Linked DNA regions of Homo sapiens. The protein of the gene in region 1 interacts with the protein of each later gene in a biochemical or structural test. Each region holds a gene or a part of one and is shown on either strand. Other genes may lie near its edges.

The links.
Region 2: the proteins of DNM1L (region 1) and MFF form a complex in vitro, tested with the Homo sapiens proteins (one study listed by BioGRID).

The regions. Positions count from the first base shown.
Region 1 is NC_000012.12:32,738,094-32,741,920, reverse strand, and holds part of DNM1L (dynamin-1-like protein), read right to left. Parts: intron 3,658-3,827; coding exon 3,625-3,657; intron 1,858-3,624; coding exon 1,681-1,857; intron 1,513-1,680; coding exon 1,403-1,512; intron 1-1,402. UniProt on the Homo sapiens protein: Functions in mitochondrial and peroxisomal division.
Region 2 is NC_000002.12:227,335,007-227,338,833, reverse strand, and holds part of MFF (mitochondrial fission factor), read right to left. Parts: intron 1-3,827. UniProt on the Homo sapiens protein: Plays a role in mitochondrial and peroxisomal fission. Promotes the recruitment and association of the fission mediator dynamin-related protein 1 (DNM1L) to the mitochondrial surface.

The DNA.
Region 1 (3,827 bases):
TGCTTTGAGAAATGCATTATTAGGTGATTTCATTACATGCACAGCACAGAGTGTACTTACACAAACGTAGATGGTATAGCCTATGACACGCCTAAGCTATATGGGATAGCCTATTGCTCCAGGCTGCAAACATGTACAGCATGTTACTGTACTGAATAGGGAACTGTAACACAATAGTATTTGTGTATCTAAACATAGGAAATGTACAGCAAAAACATGGTATCATAATCTAACGGGAACACATTCAAATACGTGGTCTGTTGACTAAAATGTTATGTGGTGCGTGACTATACTGATTCATACTACAGTATGGATGAGGCTTAAAAACATTAAGTGAGCCGGGTGCAGTGGCTCACGCCTATAATCCCAGCACTTTGGGAGGCCAAGACAGGTAGATCACCTGACGTCAGGAGTTCGAGACCAGCCTGGCCAACATGGTGAAACCCGTCTCTACTAAAAATACAAAAATTAGCTGGGCATGGTGGTGCACACCTGTTATCCCAGCTACTCAGGAGGCTGAGGCAGGAGAATCGCTTGAACCCAGAAGGCAGAGGTTGAAGTGGGCCAAGACTGCGCCACTGCACCCCAGCCTGGGCGACAAAGCGAGACTCCATCTCAAAAACACCTTCTGCAGAGGATGGGGGCAAGGAAGGAAACAAATGGAATTTTTTTCTTCAGGCCCACAGTGTAAAACACTAGGAACTGTTATTTCTACTACAAGCTACGGGTTTAAAAAGTCTACAAGCAAAAAAGATAAATGGTTCTACAGACAAAAATCATTTATTTCAATATGAAGTATTAGACTGTTTATTACTCTGTGCAGTAAAATTCATCTTAGCTGCTGACAGATTACCAAAAACTGGATGCAGAATATTTTCTAATAGATCACTTCACACAACTAAATGTATATTCTCCCTATTACTGCATGAAATGACATACCAGGCAACATGAAGGAGAAGATGCAGTAGGGACTAGACACATGAAAAAACATTCTGAACGAGAAAAAATACACATATTTCCTAGTAAAAGACATTCGTTTTGATACTTTGGAAAACCAAGTTAAATTAAAAAGGCAAGTCAGTGTTACTAGCCAAAATAATTAATGAAACTACTAAATTAAAATTTAGGAAAAAGATTTTCTTAAATGACTCAAAATGTGGCAGCCAGATAGAACAAAAGAATCTCTCATTTTTAATAGCTTTTTCTAGCTGATACATGAGGTCCTAGTCATTCTATGTTAACAAAATGGGTCTTGCTACAAGTTACCCAAGGACTATCAGAAAATCCACTTGATGATTTAGAATAAAAACCTAAAATTGTAAAAATACATGTATTTTTCAAAACAGATCACAGAATCATCCAGAAGTATTAAAGTCCGTCATTTATATTAAGTAATACTAACCTGTCTTGAATATTCTTTCTGACAATGAGAAAATATGATTTAATGAGTCGTTCAATAACCTCACAATCTCGCTGTTCCCGAGCAGATAGTTTTCGTGCAACAGGAACTGGCTAAATAGGGATGAGGGGGAAAAAATATTACTTTTGTGACACTAAAATGGCAGCTTTAACATCTGAAAGTTATGTAAGTTTTTGAGACTTTTAGTTCTTTCTGTCTAATCGTTTTCCTACTAACTTGGTCACCTACCTTATTACCTAAACCAAATTGTCATGGCTTACCACATCTAGCAGGTTCACGGCATGACCTTTTTGTGGACTGGCTGGCATAATTGGAATGGGTTTTGATTTTTCTTCTGCTAATAACTCTTCAGCTTTTGAAGTTTTCAGCATTCCTCTCCAGTTGCCTGTGGTTGGTTCTTGAACACCATCTCCAACCCCACCACCTCCAGATGCAACCTGAAAAAACATGTTCCAAAACATACCAACCACATCATATCTGACCTTAACTAAAACAAAGTTCATTTTATTTGACAGTAGTCAATATACATCCAGTACCCATCTGAAGTTTATTCAGACAGATAATGAGGTCAGAAGGAGACACTAGGTAGCATGTATAACTGGAACCCTGACCTATCTAAATAATAAAGAAGTTCTGCTCTAAGTTGTTTGCAAGGCATCAACCAACTTATGTTCTATTTAATTCCTTTTTTCTTTATCATTCGCTAACTTTTCAAAATCGTTCCTCTTCTCCCACCCTTCAAACACTAAATTGTAGGAAAAGTATATGCTGCCCTTAAAAACAAAACTACTCGTTAAAAGCACAAAGAACTGCTATTCAGTTTAATTTCTTAAGTAATCATTAACACTGTTAAACTCTAAAAGTTCCATGAACTTACGTCTCTGAACTTAAGAGTTTATATGTTTCTCAATTTACATTTCTAATAGTCAACAAAAATGCCATAAGGTATAAGTAAGAACTCTTTAACAAAAAGCAAGACTACATTTGCTATTCTTAGGCTGACAGTCACTGTGAGTTGTTTCAAATGCGGAATGTGACAAACAACAGAAGTCCCCTCAACCTCTGTACTCTTAAGGATTTGCTGAAAGAAATCTAGTGCTACCATTAATCACAAGTGCTTTTGTACCTTGTTTTCTAGAAAATGTATTAGTCTTGACTTCTAAAAGTCAAAAATGACTTTATAATGGAAAAACAATTCATCAACATTTAAGAGGGTTTTTTTTAGGTATTCTTTAAGATCTTACAATCTAAAAATGGATTATATAAGTTTAATAGAGGATTATGGCAGTTAGAAAAATGGTAGTTTGAGGTATCATTCTGAATCAAAATATTTGCTAAAATCTGTCTTTAGTATGTCAGTTAAGGTGAACTACATTTAAATATAAGTAGTATATTTATGTTACACATTAACTTAAAAATGAGTAATTAGATTTTTAAATGTTTGTTAACTATACATGAATGACATACCAAATGAAATCTTAAGGAGAGAGAGCACATTCAGTGTGACGTCATGAATGAAATAAAACTTGTGCAGTGATTTAGATGGTTTGATTAATATCTGAGCACAGTGGGCTGAGAGAAGATAAGACATTTATAAACCTTTATTTGAAGTTCAGAACTTTAAATCTGGATAATTAAGGAAAGGAGCTAAATGGCAGAAAATCTTGAAATAGCGATGAGTCTGAATAATTTATACATTATTTAATTTTCCTCTAAAATGGTTATCAAGAATTGAAAACAGTCTCAAACTCTCACAGTCCCCATTTGTTTTTTTAATTTGCTTAAGCTTCTGAAGCATATGTGAAGCTATATATAGGGTAACAAGTGCAAACTAACTGGAAGCATAAGAAAGAAGCATTAGATCTATTAGTACTGAACAGATCTCAAGATCTTTAAAGAGGAAAGGAAATGTCCAAAAATACAATTCCATCTCTGAAATCTAGGAAATCTCTGAATTTCCTACCAAAATACTAAATTTAAAACTATTCTTGAAGGTAACAAAACAGTGAGAAAGCCTATTATTGTTACTAATTAAAACAACGTTTAATGCCATCTTCCACAGGTTAGATAAAAGGAACATTAAGAACATAACACAGACAAGAGATAGATACCACTACACAAACAGGTTCTTTAATGGTGGTATAGACAGTGTTTCAGTGAGAACCAAAGGTACCAACATTTCCATTCTGAAGCAAGAGACTCACATTTTTAGTTTCTCTTCTGCTGTCCTGAATTAACTGTTAAAAGATATGTTAAAACATGCAATTTAACAAGCAAAATTTAAATACCAATGGGTTGAAATTCAAAAAGTGCAGGATAATTTCCTCTTTAAATTACTTTTTCTGTGTGCATCTTCTATATTGCAAGCAAAAGCATGTCAACAATATAAACTATGCATTGCATTGTT
Region 2 (3,827 bases), on another chromosome or scaffold:
AGACAGAGTCTTGTTCTGTCGCCCAGGCTGCAATGCAGTGGCACAATCTCGGCTTGACTCACTGCAAACTCTGCCTCCCGGGTTCAAGCAATTCTCCTGCCTCGGCATCCTGAGTAGCTGGGATTACAGGTGTGTGCCACCACACCTTGCTCATTTTTGTATTTTCAGTGGAGACGGTGTTTCACCATGTTGGCCAGGCTGGTCTCGAACTCCTAATCTCATGATTTGGCTGCCTCAGCCTCCCAAAGTGCTGGGATTACAGGCGTGAGCCACTGCGCCCGGCCGACATTATGGTTTTTAAAAAATTAAACTTTATAGTAAAAAAACAAATAGTGTGTGAATTAAGGACTTGAAAATTAAGATTTTCAAAATATCAATCAATATTTATTGATGTTTTTGGTTGGGCACGGTGGCTCACACCTGTAATCCCAGGTGGATGTTTTTCTTTTCTTTTTTTTTTTTTTGAGACAGAGTGTCACTCTGTTCCCCCAGGCTGGAGTGCAATGGTGCTATTTCAGCTCACTGCAACCTACACCTCCTGGGTTCAAGCAATTCTCATGCCTCACCCTCCCGAGTAGCTGGGATTACAGGTGCATGCCATCTCGCCCAGATAATTTTTGTTATTTTTAGTAGAGATAGGGTTTCACCATGTTGGCCAGGCTGGTCTTGAACTCCTAACCTCAAGTAATCCACCCACCTTGGCCTCCCAAAGTACTGGGATTACAGGTGTGAGCCACCATGCCCGGCCTGGATGTTTGTTTTGTTTCAATCTGAGATTTTTTTTTTTTTCCAGATAGGGTCTCATTGTGTTGCCCAGGATGGAGTACAGTGGCACAATCTTGGCTTATGCAATCTCTGCCTCCCGGGTTCAAGAGATTTTCATGCCTTAGCCTCCTGAGTAGCTGAGATTACAGGTACACACCATGACCAGCTAATTTTTGTATTTTTTGGTAGAGATGGGGTTTCACCATGTTGGCCAGGCTTGGTGATCTCTTGACCTCAAGAGATCCACCCACTTCGGCTTCCCAAAGTGCTGGGATTACAAATGTGAGCCACTGTGCCTGGCCTCAATGCAGAATTTTAAAATGTCTTTCAGAATCATCCTTCAGTGGTTATGCACTTAGTTTTATTCATCCCGGAGGCTGAGAAATAGTTTCCTAAGTTCAAGCAGCTTCCTGGAAGTTGGGTCACAGTGTCTAGTGCTACATAGTTATATAACATGTAGCACTAGACACTTTGCATGCTTGCATACAATTCTCCTTTAATATGCTTACACCCCAAGTTAAATTTGATTGTTCATAAATTCCTGGGCAAGTAAATGTCCTCTAGGTTTTTTGATGGCTGATTCTCTCAATCTGTTCAAAGCCCACCTCTTCTTCAGGAATCTACTCAGAGCCTTCGTGTTTTTCCTCTATACTCACCCCCATTTTCTGTGGGACTTTTATGCAGAAGGGGGAAAGGTACAAATTATCAATGTAGACTGAACAGTTGGGATAAATATCTTCCCTCCCCAACATGTGCATTGTCCAAAATTTAAAATCACGAATCATGGGGAGAACAGTTAAGCCAGTGACTGCGGGTTTTGGGAAGGACACATAGCCCAATTTGTCAGGAGTGACGAGACCATGCTTGTGCTAAGAGGGCCATAAAACTGTAGCTGTACAAAGAACGCAAGTGTCCATCTCTGAATTTTCCATGCATGAATGTGTAAACATATATACAATTCAGCTTTTCCTCTTCTCTCCAGACTTTTGCTCCATTCTGCTCATTGCAGTCCCAGCTCCTCTTTCCAGAAGTGATGAGGAAGGAAAAAGAGCTCAAGAAACCATCACCAAAGTGTGATCAGACCCATATTCATGAAGTTCTTGATTTTCTAAGCTTCCACAGGACCCTTTTAAATATTCACTGAGTCCCTGGGAGCCCTTCTGCATTTGTTTTAGGATATGTCATATAGCTATGGTTTTTTGCTTCACATCCTTAGCGTTGTCATATCAATTGAACTGGGCACCAATAACCATCTGCTACTTCTTTACGGTAGAATTACAGGTCTAGGGCCTTCTGCTAGACATTCATGGCTTTTGTGTCATCCTTCAGATTCTAAGGCTGCTGCTTTCTAAGTATAATCTGTGTTAAGGGTGGATCTAGCTAGATATTTCTTCTACTCCTCCAGCTCTGGCTGTACACTTTGGATATAACTGCTGTAGAATTTGGCATCCTGTGGAGGATGCCATTTGATGGCTTCTGTATAAAGCTGGCATGGCTTGGAGATAGTTCCATTTCTGAAACCACTCAATGCCTTTACTCTTCTCCTCCAAAATCAGGTCAGATTTTATATATGCCAACTGATTTTGCTCTTTCCAGATTAATTCCTAACTATTGACGATTCTTGTGTATATCTGGGGTTCAGTGCTCTTCCAAAGATTTATTATAGAAATGAATAGTATTCTCGTATTTCTCCTCTTTGAAGTAAGAGATGCCAACTTGGGCAAAAGCTTTTACTCTCTATCTTTAGACCAGTCTGTTTTTTCTTCCAACTTCAATGGCCTTCTCACAAAGCTCTTAGGGTTTATTGTAGCTGATTTTTTCAAAGCATATCACGGCTTGATTGATAGGATTTAACGGCAGAGTCCACATCTTTGACTTAGTCACACTGTTCAAGGTTGTGTCAAATCTTCTTACAGGCAGCATTTTCCAACTCTTTCTTTACAGTTCTTCTTTCTTGTTCTCTGGAAGATCCTTCCCCACTGGCTCCAGTTCGGATTCCTTTTTGAGAAGAGCTGGTAATGTCAGTGTTACAGCTTCTTTCTCCTCATTCACACTGCCTAGTCTACTGTAGGAACACTGAAAACTGTCATGACTTGGGCATTTTGTATTTCATGCCCAGATCACATGGTTTATTGAACAGTTGCTTTGTTAGTTCCCAGCAGACAGAATCACCAAGCAATGGTCTTATCTTAGAGCTGATTTCCAAATATTGGTGGAGATTAGGCATATTGAAAGTGTTTGTCAACTTCCTCTCTTCCAGCCAAGCCTCACATTTTTAAACTGTCTTTGAGCTAAGGGATTATTTATGTTATGTTTTAAGCCCTCCTCAAGGGCTCACCTGGATTCTTTAAGCCAGTTTAAGAACTCAAGTACAACTGCTTTCTACAAATTTATCCCTTGCATCAATCAGGCTTTCAGACAACAATTTTATAGGCTTCCTCATAAGCCTTCTCCTTTCTTGAGATAGGTCAGTGGTTTTCAGTAGGGGGTGATCTTGCCCTGTAGAGAACATTTGGCAATGTCTGGAGGTATTTTCTTTTTTATTTTAAAACACACATAACATACACAATTTTAACCATGTTGAAGTGTACAATTCAGCGGCATTTAGTACACTCACAACGTTGTGTAATCATTACCACTATCTAATTCCGGAATATTTTCATCAGCCCAAAAGGAAACCCCATACTGATTAAGCAGTCACTCTCAAGTCCCCTCTCCTCTAACCCCCTGACAACCACTGCTCTGTATCCTGTCTTCATTCATTTGGCCACTCTGGATATTTCATGTAAGTAGAAAAATGCAATATATGGCCTTTGTTGTCTGGCTTCTTAAACTTTACATGTTTTCAAGGTTCATCCATGTTGTGGCATGTATCAGTACCTTTTTTTTTTTTTTTTGAGAGACAGAGTCTGGCTCTGTTGCCCAGACCGGAGTACAGTGGCACAATCTCGGTTCACTGCTACCTCCACCCCGGGGTTCAAGTGATTCTCCTGCCTCCCCCTCCAGAGTAGCTGGGATTACAGGCGTCCACACCACCATGCCCAGCTAATTTTTGTATTTTC